2 linked regions of the Homo sapiens genome follow. The protein of the gene in region 2 interacts with the protein of the main gene of each other region in a biochemical or structural test. Each region holds a gene or a part of one and is shown on either strand. Other genes may lie near its edges.

Region 1 (3,820 bases), on a different chromosome or scaffold from region 2:
GTAAAGACCATCCCTGGGTCAGGAAGGGAAGGAGCCCTCCCAGCCCCGCCCCCAAGCCTGTCCCTCCCACCCAGCAGTTGTCACATCAACTGGCTTTCGTCACATGTTCCAACTGCGACAGCTGCAGAAGGCCCCTGATCCCACCCTGGGCTCCACATTTTTGCCTCTTGTTTTGAAGAAAACCTATTTTATTCCTGATCGCTCTATAAACCATACTGGTTGTGCCAATCCATGGGAATTCTCCCTTGAATGAGCTCAAAGAACATATGTATATGCAGGGCAGGCACCCAACGTCATTCATACGCTGACCTCATATGACATTAGAGGGCACGGCCATTTTTTTTCATGTGCACATGTTGATTCTTCAGCTGGATCCTAAACCTCTTAAGGGCAGGAACCTTCTCATATTTTTTTTTGAGATGGGGTCTCACTATGTTGCCTAGGCTCACCTCGAATTCCCAGGCACAAGTGATCCTCCCACCTCTGCCTCCCAAAGGGCTGGGATCACAAGCACAAGCCACCGTGCCTGTCCCTTTCTTATACTTCTATTCCGTGGATCATACATTATCTCAGAATCACCTAGAAGTCATGGTAATCTTTACGAAATTTCCAAATACTTATATATTTAATTCCATAGTATAGCCAAGAACAATTTTATAAACACTGCAACGATAGGAAAACATCATAAACTGTGAATCAAAGGCCTCAATTATTTTCTGGTTTTTGTTGTTGTTGTTGTCGCTATTTTTCAGACAGCATCTCACTCTGTCACCGAGGCTGGAGCGCAGTGGTGTGATCTTGGCTCACTGCAACCTCCAGCTCCTGGGTTTGAGCACTTCTCGTGCCTCAGCCTCCAAAGTAGCTGGAATTACAGGCGCATGCAACCATGCCCAGCTAATTTTTGTATTTTTAGAAGAGATGCGCTTTCAACATGTTGGCCAGGCTAGTCTCAAACTCCTGACCTCAGGTGATCCATCCGCCTCGGCCTCCCGAAGTGCTGGGATTACAGGCATGAGCCACCACATCTGGCCATTTTGGTACTTTAAGACCAGTAAGAAATCATCCTCACTCCACCCTATGATCTCATCATCTTCTTCTGCCAAATCCCATAAGCTCCTCAGAGTGGGAGTCTGGTTCTCTACCAGAGAGCCCTCCCTAAACACACAATAACCTGTCACCTCTCTGCCAGTGACATTTCCTCATCTACTTAATGCTTCCATCCAAGATCCTTAGACAACAACATACAAACCTCCTGCCACTCGTTTTCTTTTTCCAGTTTTTGGATGTTCCCACTGAGTCTTCTCCTCGGTGTGACTGTTAAAAAACAAAAAATCCACAGTAATAAGTAAAAATTAACTCTTCTAAAAAGTAATCAATTGTATTAAATTTTTTCTCTCCCAGATAGCCAGATATAAGAAGGAAGTAGGGGGAAGAAGGAGAAAGAGGACTGTGACCCCAGCTACGGGGTCAACTTTAGGAGGTTTGCTGAATCACTCAAAATATCTAGAGGCCGTCGGGAGCGGTGGCTCACACCTGTAATCCCAGCACTTTGGGAGCCCTAGGGGAGCAGATCACAAGGTCAGGAGATGGAGACCATCCTGGCCAACATGGTGAAACCCTGTCTCTACCAAAAATACAAAATTAGCTGGGGACAGTGGCACGTGCCTGTAGTCCCAGCTACTCGGGAGGCTGAGGCAGGAGAATCGCTTGAGCCAGGGAAGCAGAAGTTGCAGTGAGCCGAGATCACGCCGCTGCACTCCAGCCTGGCGACAGAGCAAGACTCTGTCTCAAAAATAAATAAATAAATAAATAAATCTAGAGGCATTTTGCTGTGTATTTGTTTTGGTTTTATTCCACGATGTAGGGACAAAATTCATAATATCTAATTTATATAATCTCTTAAAATGTTTATTTATTTGTGTTTCTTTTTAAAGAATCAGGGTCTCACTATGTTGCCCAGGCTGGACTGGAACTCCTGGACTCAAGTAACCCTCCTATTTCAGCCTCTTGAGTGGCTGGGACTAGAAGCCCGTGCCACCTTGCCCAGCTAAAATGTTTATTCTTTCCACAGATGTAACTTCAAAGTGTTTCATTAAGCACTGGTTCCTAACTGGTCCCAAGAGGTAGTTAAGAGATGCAGTAAGACCTTCCCATAGGGCATCTAGCTGTGCGCTGTGCACCTTTGGTCAAGTGACCCCACTCCTTAATCTCCATCCCCTCATCTGCAAAATGGAAATAATCCTAGCACTGGTCTCAGGGGCTACTATAAGAATATTGTACATCCAGGGTTTCGCATAGCACTTGGCATACAAAAAGCTCTGAGAAATGTAAGCTGTTATTCTGAACAAATCAGTTACACAAACTAGTCCTATTTTTGCGTCAAACTTAACATTTCATTTCAGACCACCACCCAAAGTTATAATTAAAAACATAGGTCAATAACTAGAAACACGTGTCACCAGGTAATAAGGTATCCAGGAAAACATACAATTATTTCAAAAGGGAAACAGCCAGGTGCTACAAGAGGTATTCGAAGGGTAGGCTGCGTTTCCTAAAAGTTCACCTACTCATGCCAACCCAGAAAGTTATATTATTTAATCAGCAACATCTAGATGATAAGATGTGAACATTCTTTCCCTATCAATTATTTTACAGAAAATAAATACAGAGAGCACGAATTTTCTAAAAAATTCTACAACTTGCAAGCAAGGTCTTTTCATGAACTGCTGGCTTCTGGTCTGTTTGACAAAGTCTTGGCAGCTGGGTCTCTGTCATAGTGCAGGAATGCCTCACTCAGCACGCTGAAGACCTGAGCAGCCCATGCTAGCTGAGTCCAGCCAGTCTCCTCAGGGCTACTGCCACCTCACAGAGCTGCTGAAAAGGCGAGACACATGACACCTGTGACAGTGCTTGGAGAACGATTAAAACCTTGTACCAGCTACGGTATCAGTAGCAAGGACAAACTCCTACTTTGTACATCAACCACCATCCAATATCACTTGCAAAAAAAAGCAGCTCTGTGGCCGGGCGCGGTGGCTCATGTCTGTAATCCCAGTACTTCAGGAGGGCAAGGCAGGCGGATTACCTGAGGTCAGGAGTTCGCGACCAGCCTGAACAACATGGAGAAACCCTGTCTCTACTAAAAATACAAAATTAGCCTGGCGTGGTGGCACATGCCTGTAATCCCAGCTACTCGGGAAGCTGAGGCAGGAGAATTGCTTCAACCCGGCAGGCAGAGGCTGCGGTGAGCTGAGATCGTGCACTCCAGCCTGGGCAACAATTGTGAAACTCCATCTCAAAAAAAAAAAAAAAAAACAAAAAAAAACCGTTCTGACTCTCTGGCTCTCTAGTAAGGATAACCCGCTCTCTGCTGGCACAGTGGGAATATTGGTATACCAACTCCTGCTTCTCCTTCAAAATGAATGGCAACAGCAATCAGATAAACCAAGCATTGGCAATAACATGAAACCTTCCAGCCCCTTGCAGAGCTGTGTCTCAAGCTTCTTCAAGAAAGTTAAGAGATGGACTTGCATTTTCCTTGCCTGCCATTAAAAGCAGTCTTTATCTCATAGGCACACATCAAATGTGCTTGAAGCCTGGCTCCAAAAAACTCTGCCCTCAAGAATCCATGGAGTGGCGGGGTACGGTGGCTCACGCCTGTAATCCCAGCACTTTGGGAGGCCGAGGCGGGAGGATCGCTAGAGCCCAGGAGATCGAGACCAGCCTAGGCAACATGGCAAAACCCCATCTCTACTAAAAATACAAAAATTAGACAGACATGGTGGCACATGCCTGTAATCCCAGCTACTTGAGTGGCTGA
Region 2 (3,820 bases):
GCTCATATAGCAGGTAGCTTGTTCTTATTTTTCTTATCTATGTTAGCTACCAAGAATGATGAATTAGTGGTGAATTATTGGGCTTTCCCTGATCAAGATGGACAAAAATAATCCTGACTAGGCCAGGCACAGTGGCTCACGCCTGTAATCCCAGCACTTTGGGAGGCGAGGCGGGAGGATCAGCTGAACCCAGGAGTTTGAGATCAGCCTGGGCAATATAGCAAGACCCTGTCTCTACAAATAATAATTAGCTGGGTGTGGTGGCATGTGCCTGTAGTCCCAGCTACTCCGGAGGCCGAGGTGGGAGGATCACTTGAGCCCAGGAGGGTGAGGCTGTAGTGAACCACGATCGTACCACTGCATTCCAGCTTGGGGGACAGAAAAAAAAAATAAGGAAAAAAAAATCCTTACTACTGTGTCCCAGGACTTAAAAAGAATGAGAAAGAACCTAAAACTCCTTACAGTGCTTGAGTGTTGCATGGACTCTAATTACCACTGGAGCGTGAAGAGTTTGAGCAGTTTTTATGTTTGAGAGTCCCCTAACAGAATACATGATAGCAATATTGTCATCTTCAAGGGCTCTGGCCTGTTTATTCAACATGCTTTTTTCTTTCTTTCTTTCCAGCAACTTAAAATTGAAAGACTTGCACAGAAACAAGTTGAGCAAATTCAGCCTCCTCCCTCATCTGGCACCCCTCTCCTCGGACCCCAGCCTTTTCCAGGACAAGGTCCAATGTCTCAGATTCCTCAAGGTTTTCAACAGCCCCATCCATCTCAGCAGATGCCAATGAACATGGCTCAAATGGGGCCTCCAGGTCCACAGGGACAGTTTAGGCCTCCTGGACCCCAGGGACAAATGGGACCACAAGGTCCTCCACTGCATCAGGGAGGTGGGGGGCCACAAGGATTCATGGGACCACAGGGGCCCCAGGGCCCGCCCCAGGGGTTGCCACGGCCTCAGGACATGCATGGGCCCCAAGGAATGCAGAGGCATCCTGGACCTCATGGCCCTTTGGGACCTCAAGGGCCACCTGGACCACAAGGTAGTTCTGGTCCTCAAGGTCATATGGGTCCTCAGGGTCCACCTGGCCCACAGGGTCACATAGGCCCCCAAGGCCCGCCTGGCCCTCAGGGTCACTTGGGCCCACAGGGGCCTCCGGGTACTCAAGGTATGCAGGGACCACCTGGTCCCAGAGGAATGCAAGGGCCTCCTCATCCTCATGGGATCCAAGGCGGACCAGGGTCTCAAGGGATCCAAGGTCCTGTGTCTCAGGGACCTCTGATGGGATTGAATCCAAGAGGAATGCAGGGGCCTCCAGGCCCCCGGGAGAACCAGGGTCCTGCTCCCCAAGGGATGATTATGGGCCACCCGCCTCAAGAGATGAGAGGACCTCACCCTCCAGGTGGACTACTGGGACACGGCCCTCAGGAAATGAGAGGTCCTCAGGAGATCCGAGGCATGCAGGGGCCTCCACCCCAAGGATCAATGCTGGGACCTCCCCAGGAATTGCGAGGGCCTCCAGGCTCACAAAGTCAGCAGGGGCCGCCCCAGGGCTCTTTAGGACCTCCACCCCAGGGTGGCATGCAAGGACCCCCCGGACCTCAGGGACAGCAGAACCCAGCAAGAGGGCCACATCCATCTCAAGGGCCAATACCATTCCAGCAACAGAAAACGCCTCTGCTAGGTGATGGGCCCCGGGCCCCCTTCAACCAGGTATTATTCATTTCCAACTCACGGGCACATTGGGAAAATACACTCTGCACAGAAGTAATACTGCTGAGTATTGTGGAAAATGGTCACAGCTGGATATAAATACTTATCAAGTAGTGACAGTAGCTTAAGATACTAGCATCCTGGCTGAAGAATGAAATCATAAGAATGATGAGTTAGGTTATACTCCCATTAAGTACATCTCAGTATTCATTTTTACTTCTCACCATTTTTCTTTTTTTGGTAATAGAGTTTCTTCAGAAAAGGTCAACTCTCATTTGAGTACAGCTGATAATTGTCCCAGGGCTCCAGGAGAGCTGTGGCCCTGAGGAGGAAGCATGTTTTACATGGTGGTCGGCTCTGAGGCTGTCATGCCTCCTTTCTGGGCCCTTTACATTGCAGCCTGGTGTTCCATGGGCCTGCCAGCCACAGAATCACTTCCTGTCTGCCAACTCTACTTTTAAAAGATAGGATGGGATATTTAACTCATGAGTATACTATAGACTCTGTACCTCACTCTGTTTATTACAGTGAATAGAAATAAAGAGACTGTTATTCCAGAATTGAGCATTCTGGAAATGGTGACCCTTTGGATGAAACTCTGCTCAAGTTGTTTTCAGCTCACATATAAAAGTATTTGCAGGGGGGAGCATTTCTGTAGAAATTCTCCTTCTTTGAGGATTCTGTTTTTGTTAGCCAATTTTTATTGCTCATGCGCTGAGCTCGTGCTTGAGAGATGGTGTGAGGAAAGTTCAGGTTGCTTGGGGGAGTGAATTACGAAAAGAATTGCATGAGCATAAATAGATGTAATACTGCTCAGCTATGTGCATTTTATGCTTTTCTCAAGTTCTTAGTCTGGAGGCATTATTTGGGTATGAATAACTGAGTTTTGTCCCTGAAAACTCACTTTTGGTCCAGTGTGGACCAAAAGTGAGCGAGTCAGCTAATGTTGACTCCCTGAGACACTTGGAGAAAGGGGATGCTACAGATGTAGAAAGCACAGTCTGTTTTGGTTTTTCAAATACCACCACGAATCCCTAATGTAAAGATGACCATTGGGTTTCCTGAACTCAACTACTAAGCTAAAACAAATAAATTATCTACTATTCTAAAGTAGGTCTTCCAGAACCTAAAAGTGTCGTAGTCATGGAGAATCTGATGATGTCTGAGTTATTTCCAGATTTTTATTCAGCACTTCTCAGAAGTTAGGATGAATTAAGTATAGGATTGCCATTCTAAATTGCCCTAAAACTTGAAGTATTATATATTTTATTAATTTACTGCTCAGTTGTATGTGTGTATAATATTATTTATTGTAAGTTATTTTCCTAACTTTCTGGTAGTAAATTAACAGTTTTCATTTTGGAGGATTAAAAAAATAATGGACTTTAGCTACTGTGTTATAACTGAAATATTTATAAACATGTCAGAGTCACAAGGACATGCCTGAGTTTCTGGGATAATTCAATGAGATTTTTTATTGTACCATGTAGTAAAAGATTTTATACATGGGAAGCATGATTCTGAAATTTTAATTGACCTATAGAAATACTGGTAGAATGAGTCTGAAGATCTGATACTTTGTAGGGCATTTCAGATCTCAGAAGTTGCCTGATGAAAATCTGTGCTCTTATTTCTCATATGCTGAAATCTAAGTTGCTTCACTTTAACCAGACCAGTTACTTAAACCAGTTGTTTTAATTGGTTTAATTTAGTGCTGCTGTGTTAGAATTTCTGACTTTCCATTGATGTTCTTTTTTGGCATTACGAGTAAAGATCTAATTTTACATAAAAGTTGTCAACAGGTTTAAAATACAGGTGCTTTAAAAAAATTATTATAGTAAAAGAAGTATCTCCTTTCTCCTGATTTAAGGACAATGTTACTGTAATCTTACTAGGTAAATATTTACTGGGTATTTTTATCTTGTCATGTTATAATGCAATCACTATTTATGTAGCTCAAGCCTGTGATTTCATACCCTTACTTTAAAAACATATTTTCAGGAAGGACAGAGCACAGGCCCCCCACCCCTGATACCAGGCCTAGGGCAGCAGGGAGCACAAGGTCGCATTCCCCCTCTGAACCCCGGACAAGGACCTGGCCCCAAC

Evidence for each region.
Region 1: the proteins of WDR33 (region 2) and WWOX form a complex in vitro, tested with the Homo sapiens proteins (one study listed by BioGRID).

Annotation. Positions count from the first base shown.
Region 1 is NC_000016.10:78,105,917-78,109,736, reverse strand, and holds part of WWOX (WW domain-containing oxidoreductase), read right to left. Parts: intron 1,315-3,820; coding exon 1,250-1,314; intron 1-1,249. UniProt on the Homo sapiens protein: Putative oxidoreductase. Acts as a tumor suppressor and plays a role in apoptosis. Required for normal bone development. May function synergistically with p53/TP53 to control genotoxic stress-induced cell death.
Region 2 is NC_000002.12:127,717,159-127,720,978, reverse strand, and holds part of WDR33 (pre-mRNA 3' end processing protein WDR33), read left to right. Parts: intron 1-625; coding exon 626-1,714; intron 1,715-3,715; coding exon 3,716-3,820. UniProt on the Homo sapiens protein: Essential for both cleavage and polyadenylation of pre-mRNA 3' ends.